Regions from separate parts of the Homo sapiens genome. Here region 2 is linked to region 1. Evidence: fine-mapped expression QTL. A gene starts in region 1. The other region holds a variant in brackets. All regions are shown on one strand. Distances are from middle to middle. Region 1 holds the start of TBC1D24 (TBC1 domain family member 24). Region 2 has its middle 11 kb from the start of ZNF174.

The links. PIP is the estimated chance that this variant, and not a neighbour inherited with it, causes the effect. A credible set is the group of variants that fine-mapping cannot tell apart.
Region 2: its variant is the best candidate, but not a certain one, in a credible set for the expression of TBC1D24 in spleen (GTEx, PIP 0.85).

Annotation. Positions count from the first base shown.
Region 1 is chr16:2,473,259-2,477,579 of GRCh38, forward strand. TBC1D24 (TBC1 domain family member 24) reads left to right here and starts at 1,869. Exons shown (of 8, transcript NM_001199107.2): 1 at 1,869-1,912. NTN3 (netrin 3) reads left to right here. Exons shown (of 6, transcript NM_006181.3): 4 at 10-60; 5 at 171-245; 6 at 498-887. The coding sequence ends at 847. RefSeq lists silencers at 471-620, 691-750, 811-1,080, 1,481-1,970, 2,431-2,630.
Region 2 is chr16:3,409,663-3,414,042 of GRCh38, forward strand. No RefSeq gene overlaps it. Among named protein-coding and RNA genes, the nearest start is that of ZNF174, 11 kb to the left of the region's middle. The variant T/C (reference allele first, on the strand shown) is at 2,414.

The DNA of each region.
Region 1 (4,321 bases):
TCTCTGCAGAGACCCCTATCCCTGGACCCACTGAGGACAGCAGCCCTGTGCAGCCCCAGGGTGAGTGGACACAGGACAGGGCCCCAGACTGGCATGACTTTGGGGGAGGGGGCTCTGGGAGGAGAGGGTGGGGAAAGGGAGTCTGTGCCAGCCTCCCACCTTCTACCCAGACTGTGACTCGCACTGCAAACCTGCCCGTGGCAGCTACCGCATCAGCCTAAAGAAGTTCTGCAAGAAGGACTATGGTAGGTGCCCTCAGGCCTCCCGCGGACCTTCCCACCTTCCTCCTCTCCCTACCTTCCCTCCTCCGCCAGCTTCCCCTTGGAACGCCTTGACCCTTGCTGGGCCCCAAGGCCCATCCTCATCCCTCAGGTCCTCCACGGGCAGCGACCCCGCCCCTTCAGCCCCCACTGCCCTCCTGGTGTCCTCCCCGTGCCTCCCCCTACCGCGGGCAGGCCGCCCCTTCCTGACCCCGCCCCCTCTCGCTCTCCCCGCAGCGGTGCAGGTGGCGGTGGGTGCGCGCGGCGAGGCGCGCGGCGCGTGGACACGCTTCCCGGTGGCGGTGCTCGCCGTGTTCCGGAGCGGAGAGGAGCGCGCGCGGCGCGGGAGTAGCGCGCTGTGGGTGCCCGCCGGGGATGCGGCCTGCGGCTGCCCGCGCCTGCTCCCCGGCCGCCGCTACCTCCTGCTGGGGGGCGGGCCTGGAGCCGCGGCTGGGGGCGCGGGGGGCCGGGGGCCCGGGCTCATCGCCGCCCGCGGAAGCCTCGTGCTACCCTGGAGGGACGCGTGGACGCGGCGCCTGCGGAGGCTGCAGCGACGCGAACGGCGGGGGCGCTGCAGCGCCGCCTGAGCCCGCCGGCTGGGCAGGGCGGCCGCTGCTCCCACATCTAGGCGCACGTTCACCCTGTGCCTTCGCCTGCCAAGGAGTCCTTGCTCGCGTCGCGCGTGTCGCCACCTGGGCCGCCGCCCCGTCCCCGCCGGCAGCTCCCTCGGTACCTCCCGTCTGGCCCTGGGGGGATGTGACCGGCGCAGCGACAGCCCGCCCCGCACAGAGGCAGATGATATGGCACACCCGGAGGACCCCATGGTCTCCCGCCCTCTGGCTGTCGGCCCTGTCCCAGGGGCACTGGGATACCCGGAAGGCTGTGAATCCTTCGTGATGCCGGGCCCTCTCGGGGATCTCAGATCATCCCCGGGGCCGCTGTGATGCACCCCCACCTGTGCGGCGACCCGCCAGGGAGCGCACTGACCTCCCCAAAGACTGTGGCCACCGCAGGCGCCTTGGACCCCCATGGGGGGACAGGGCGTCCCCTGCCTCCTGCAGCCCCACGAGGGCGGCGGCCTTGGCCCCTGCGGGCTGGGCGTCCGCGTCCGGGCGCCCCGCGGCGTCTGCTGCCGGGTCCCGTAACTTTCTTGGCCGCCTGTGTCCCCGTCTGCCGGCTCCGTCCGGCCGTCCCTCTCTCTGCCGCGTCTCTGACCCTCGGCGCCACAGCTCCTCAGCTCAGGGCCCGTCCCAGAACCTCCTTCCAGCCCTTCTCCCCCGACTCGGGAAGGGACGTCGTGCCCACGCGGTTCCGGATCCACGCGTGACCCGGCCGGACCGCGACTCCGACAGGCGGCTGTCCGGGCCCCCGATGCCCTCGGCAGGGCCGTGCCACCCCCCGCCCCCCTTGGCTTGTCCCCCCGGGACCGCACTGCCGTTGCCTCCTCTCCGCACGGGACCGGTTCCCGGCCGGCCCCAGCTTCCGCCGCTGCGGCCGCCGACCGTCAGCGCGCATGCCCAGAGCCGGGCAGGCCGGAGCCCCGCGGGCTCTCCGGGGTGGGCACAGGGCGACAGCTCGGCGGGGGCGGGGCCGAGCACGCGCGTGCGCAGAAAGGCCGGCGCGGCAGGCTGAGGAGAAAGCGGCGCGCGGAGGTGGGTGCGCTCGGGGCGTGCGGGGGGCGCGCGGCGGGGTGGCGGGTGGCGGGGCCGGGTCCCCGCTGTCACCGCGGTCGGCGCGTGCTGGGGGCGGGAGCGTGGGGGCCGGGCTGCGGGCCCCATTCGAGGCGGGGATCCCCGGCCACGCGCGGGTTGGGGGCTCCAGAGCCCGGCACCGCCCGGCGCTGCAGCTGCGGCTTGGCCTACGGGAGGGGGCGCAGGAGCGGGACCCCCTGGGCGCGAGGCCCGATCCCCGCCCGGTCGCTGGCCCGCGGCCCGGCCCAGGGCATGGTGTCGTCTGGAAGAGTGACTGTGTCACTGTTTCCTTGGGGCGCTTTCCGTCTCCGCAGGGTCGGAAATCCTCTTGGGGGCTCGGTGAGATTGCAACAGATTCTGATACGCCCTGCCCTGTGGACCTGCAGCGGCCCCGGGCCCCGCCCCGCCCCGCCCAGGGATGACACACGCCCCCACCGACCACCCGCTTGGGGGTCCGCCAGCCCCCGGCCCTGTCCAGTGGGGGGCCCCTCTGGGTGCGCCGTGCCAGGCGGCCGCTGTCCTTCGGGCCCTGGGAGGTGGAAGCCAGGGACTCCCAGCCCTGAGCCAGCACAGCGGAGGGGAGAGCCGGCCCCACCTGGGCTGGGCTGCACCTGTTCCCGCCCCCTCCAGGCGGGAGTCCCCGCGGCCTGGCCACAGGCCTTCTTTGATGGCCGTGCCCCGCAGGGAAACGCGCTGTGGCCCCCGGGTTACTGCTTGCGGGGGTGATATTAAAGGTCAAAGGTTGTCTAAAAGCCACCTGGGTGGTGTGGAGGTGCAGGTGGGCTGTTAGGTTGGTGGCTGTGGTTGTGAAGCCGATGTCACTGTCTTTACCCAGCAGCTTATTCCAGAAAGGGGGCGTCAGCCTGCCCTTCCAGTGCCGATAGAAGCACTAGCGGGTGATTTTTCCCTGTTTTGCTGTGTTTGCTCTGGAGTCACCAGGTGACTTCCAGGCAGTGTGCAGAAGGAACCGTCCCATTATTTGGCACGTGGGCCGTTTCCTCCACCCGAGGTCCAGGGCTCCGTCTTCACAGTCTGTCCTCAGCACACAGTAGGCACCTGTAGATGGCACACGTGGCGTTTCCTCCGCCCGAGGGCCAGGGCTCTGTCTTCAGCACACAGTAGGCACCTGTAAATGTTTGCTCAGTTGCGGCGAAGACAAGCAGTCAGGTTCTTTTCATTTTAAGGAACACACACTGGGAAAAAAAACCAATCCAGATTAGAGAAGATCAGAAAATCTTACGAAGATTTTACAGTTACTGTTCCTAGCCTGTGGCGTGACCCCTGCGTGCACCGCCTTTTATTCTGAGGGTTGATCCTCATCTAATCTGAACACTCAGATAGAGGCTTTACATGGAGGACTTATTGGGGAGTGCTTGCTCTACTTAGAAGCCTGTCTTTCCCTGTGAAGAGGGCGGGAGCCACGCTGTTCATCTTTGCTTCCCCACAGCCTGGCCAGGGCCGGACCAGAGGTTTTCTCTACATGATGGTTGAAGTGGATCAAGGTCCTTTTGTCGGAGTGATAGATGTCAACTATTGCAGTGGCTTTCCACTGGGTTGAGGGTGACCTTCCGAGATGCAGAAGTAATCTAGGCAAGGTTTTCATAACAACAATAAATTTGGCCACCCAGGGTCTGTGAAGTCACCTGTAGGGTAGCCTTACTAGCTCTCGCTGACCACACCTGCCAGGAGTGTCCAGCAGGCTCGAGTGACCTTGGGCATGCAGTGTTGCTCTTAATTATCTACAGATTGAGCCAAGCTCAGAAAACATATTAAATGTTTGCCTTTAGATGGTTTCTGGTTTAAAGTACATAAGGACAATGAAGCAGGTTACAAAAAAAGCACTTAACATTTACCCTGTTCAATGTTTTACCTGTCTGAGCATACCTTTTCTGTTATGACAACTCTGTAAATGGAAGAAAGAAGTCCTTTTCAACTCAAAGCAGCAATTTCAGTGGCTGTTTCAAACATTGCCTTTCAATTGGAGATAAAATCAAAGAAACAAAACCTCAGGCTTTTTACTGAGGACCAACTTGAATTCATTATTCAATGATTTTCTGTATCCTTTCAACATGTGTTTGTTAAGCGAGGTGCGGTGGCTCACGCCTGCAATCCCAACACTTTGGGAGGCTGAGGTGGAAGGATCGCATGAGCCCAGGAGTTCAAGACCACCTTGGGCAACATAGGGAGGTCTCGTCTCTATAAAAAATTAGCCAAGTATGGTGGCATGTGCCTGTGGTCCCAGCTACTTGGGAAGCTGAGGCAGAAGGATCACTTGAGCCTGGGAGCTCAAGACTGCAGTGAGCTGTGATTGTGCCACTGCACTCAAGCCAGGGCAACAGAGTGAGACCCTGTCTCTGAAAAACAAAACAA
Region 2 (4,380 bases), 940 kb after region 1:
GGGATTGCAAGTGTGAACCACCGTGCCTGTTCTCAAAGCACCTTTGATTGAGAAAAAAAAAATCTACACAGTTGCTGCAACCCCAGCCTAACACATAAGGAAAAGCTACAGTGAGAAGCAAGTAGTGGACAAAGAGTACTAAGGAGATATAAAAGGGAATTCTTCCCACTCTCCTTTCTCACTTAGCCCATTAGCTTTAAGAATAACAAAATGCAATGGGGGTACAGTGGCTCACACATGTAATCCTAGCACTTTGAGAGGCTGAGGCAGGGTGATCGAGCCCAGGAGTTTGAGACCAGCCTGGGCAATGTAGCTAAATCCTGTCTCTACAAAAAATACAAAAATTAGCCAGGCATGATGGTGCATGCCTATAATCCCAGCTAGCTACTCTTGGAGGCTGAGGCAAAAGTATTGTTTGAGCCCAGGAGTTAGAGGCTGCAGTGAGCTATGATTGCACCACTCCACTCTAGCCTGGATGACAGAGTGAGACTCTGTCTCAGGAAAAAAAAAAAATAGCAAAAGGATTGGGGTAATGAAAATATTCTAAGACTGGATTACAGTGATGGTTGCACAACTCAGTAAATTTACTAAAAATAATTGAAATGGGCTAATTTTATGATATGTAAATTGTACCTCAACAGCGTATTTTTAAGTGACAAAATATATTTATATAAAATGAGCCCTGGAAATAAGCCTGAGCGATCATCTAATGCCACCTCCTCGTTTTCTCAAAGCGGAAATTAAAATGCAAATCAGTATACAATTCCTAGCTCATTGCTCAGTTTAGAGAAAACTTTTGGCAGATTAGTGCATTCCTGATGCAGAAAATAAGAAGCAAGTAGCATTTTTTTTTTTTGAGACAGGGTCTCACTCTGTTGCCCAGGCTAGAGTGCACTGGCGTGATCATGCCTCACTATAGCTTCGATCTTCTGGGCTCAAGCAATCCTCCCTCCTCAGCCTCCCGAGCAGTTGGGACTACAGGAATGCACCACCATGCCTGGCTAATTTTTCTATTTTTTTGTAGAGACAGAGTCTCACTGTGTTGCCCAGTCTATCCTCGAACTCCTGGGCTCAAGCCATCCTCTCACTTTAGACTCCCAAAGTGCTGGGATTACAGATGTACGCTCAGCAAGGTAGCATTCTTCACAAAACATCAGTATCATCAAGTAACTACCAGTCACCTCAGGGCTGTGGGCTGAGCTCTTCTGTACCCCCCAAGGAATCTCTTGTCCCTTCTAACTGCCGAGGGACATATGCACACCTATGAGTCCTCTTTGGGGCCTTTGCACACAATTGTTTCCTTTGCCTTTATTTCCTGATGCTCCCCACTCCCTCCTGCCTCCTCCCTCTCACAAGAGTTTCCTTCTCTCAAAGCCTTCCCTGAGGAGCCCTAGGCAGACTTCTGTGAAAATTGGGGTCCAGCCTCTCTGCTAGACCCCATACACCAGGGGTGCTCAAACTGGGAGCCCCCCAGGGGTTGTCGGACAAAGTCCAAAGACACTTTTGGTTGTTAGGACTGGGGAAGGGAGGCTTGTTGCTGGCCTCTAGTGGGTTCTACTGAACCGCCTGCAGTGCCGGGACAGCCAGCCCCCACAGCAATGACCTGGCTCAAAAAATCAGTATCACCAAGGCTGGGAAACTACCATGCACTATAACAGCTCTTTCAAAACAAGAACATTGTTTTTCCATAACTTTAGCTTCTGGACTTTGTCAATAACCAGCCAAGAGAAACAGATGTTCAGTATGTGAACAGTTGAGAATCCCCACTGTACCCACAGGGCCCATGTCTGCCTGAGTTCAGAGATCCTGGTGACAATCTGTTGAATGCACAGGTGAGCTTCTGTCTTTTGGGCAGAGGCTTATTGAAGGCCCAGTGGCCTTCCTTACAGCTTTTGTGGTCCTTTAGGTACTTTAGGCCCTGATCCCATTCCCATCTGTTATGTTAGATCATGAAGAATTTAGCTTCTGTATCCGAGCTGCCCCATACCTGGCTCCATCCTGATACCTCTCCCTGGTCAAGGCCTCTTTCTTCCTCATTGTGTTTCCACCTCACCCTACTGAAACCAGGCTGATTTCACTGTTGTCCCTTAATAACCTCCAAGTCATAGTCACATCTGTATTAGGTACTTTGTGGTGTGGTAACAGATGACCCACCAGCTTAATGGTTTAAAACAACACAAACTGGGGCCGGGCGTGGTGGCTCACACCTGTAATCCCAGCACTTTGGGAGGCCAAGGTTGTGAAAAGTTCACCTGAGGTCAGAAGTTCAAGATCAGCCTGGCCAATATGGTGAAAGCCTGTCTCTACTAAAAATACAAAAATTAACCGGATGTGGTGGTGCACGCCTATAATCCCAGCTACTCGGGAGGCTGAGGCAGAAGAATCACTTGAACATGGGAGGCAGAGGCTGCAG[T/C]GGGCCGAGATTGTGCCACTGCACTCCAGCCTGGGCAGCAAGAGTGAAACTTGGACTCAAAAAACAAAAACAAACAAAAAAACACAAAAAGCAAAAAAACCGCCGGGCACGGTGGCTCACGCCTGTAATCCCAGCACTTTGGGAGGCCGAGGTGGGTGGATCACGAGGTCAGAAGATCGAGACCATCCTGGCTAACACAGTGAAACCCCGTCTCTACTAAAAATACAAAAAAAATTAGCTGGGCGTGGTGGCAGGCACCTGTAGTCCCAGCTACTCAGGAGGCTGAGGCAGGAGAGTGGCGTGAACCCAGGAGGTGGAGCTTGCAGTGAGCCGAGTTTGCACCACTGCACTCCAGAGCCTGGGCTACAGAGCAAGACTCCGTCTCAAAAAAAAAAAAAAAAAAAAAAAAAAAAAACCCACAACCTTATCGTTCTAGAGGTCAGAAATCTGAAATTGATTTCACTCAGCCAAAATCAAGCTGTCGGCAAGGCTGGTTCCTCTGAAGGCTCTGAGGGGTGAATCTCTTGCCTTGACTTTTTCAGCTTCTAACAGCCACCCACATCCTTTGGCCTCCACCCTCAAAGTGCATCACTCCAATCTCATTCCACCGCATTCTCCTCTGACTATGACCTTCCTGCTTGCCTTGTATAAGGACCGTTATGATGTTGGGCCCACCGGCATAATCCAGAATAATCTCCCTATCTCAAGATCCTTAACTTAATAACATCTGCAAAGCCCCTTTTGCCATATAAGGTAAACTTAATGGGTTCCAAGTATTAGGATGTGGACACATTTGGGGTGCCATGACTCAACCCACCGCACATATCCATCTTGAATCAAGTTAGTCAAAGAGCATCTCTCCTAAAAGAGAAGGACCATAGATTTCTACTTAATTATAAGGGTTGGGGTCAGGCGCAGTGGCTCACACCTGCAATCCCAGGACTTTGGGAGGCCGAGGCAGGCGGATCATTTGAGGCCAGGAGTTCAAAACCAGCCTGGCCAACATGGTGAAATCCTGTCTGTACCAAAAAAAAAAAAAAAAAAAAGAATTAGCCGCGTGTGGTGGTGTGCGCCTGTAGTCCCAGCTACTCACGAGGCTGAGGCATGAGAATCTCTTGAACCCGGGAGGCGAGGCTGAAGGAAGGTAGAGGTTGCAGTGAGCTGAGATCGCACCATTGCACTCCAGCCTGGGCAACAGACCATCCCCAAGCATAGCCTTCCTTTGGTATAAGGCTCAACTCCAGGCCAAGAGGACCAGGAAGGGTCCAATGGCTACAAGAACCCAAGGTCCTGTACTCAGATGTAAGTTTCCTCTCAGCCCCCGTACCCATGCATGGTCTGCCAGAGGACCTCAGCTGCTCCAATAGATTGTGATTCTCCGTATCCACCAGTCTGTCTCTACAAATTTTGGGGTGGCTGTTTGCCCTGTGACCTCACTTCTCTTACAGAAGAATTGTTGGGTTTTTCGGGTTGTTCAGCTTTTTATTTGTCATTAGAATGGAGTGACAACTTTCAAGCTCCTTATATTTGCAACCAGAGACTGGAAGTCACAAGAGTGAAACACCGTCTCAAAAAAAAGAAAACAGCAGTGAGACAGTGACTCCCTGACCTCACTGGCTAGATGAATTCCTCTTAAACCTTCTCAAAGCAAAACATGGCTCTACTTGGCTGCAGTTGCCCTCTCAATGCAGATCGCAACGAAACCCTCTCAATGCAGATCTCTGCCTTCCCGCCTCAACACTGCACCCGGGAGCCCTCCTCCAAGGGTCAGTGCCCGATAGGTTTGAGGGCAAGCCCCCGCCAGGGTGAAGCCGCCTCCTCCTCTGGGCCTGGGACGTGCTGGGAGGGAGGGAACGCGGTCCCCCGGGGAGTCACATGCCCCCATTCCCGGGGTCACCCAGGGACAACGGGCAGGAATAGACAGGTAAGGACCCTGCAGCTGAGCGAGCCCTGTGGCCGGATGTTCC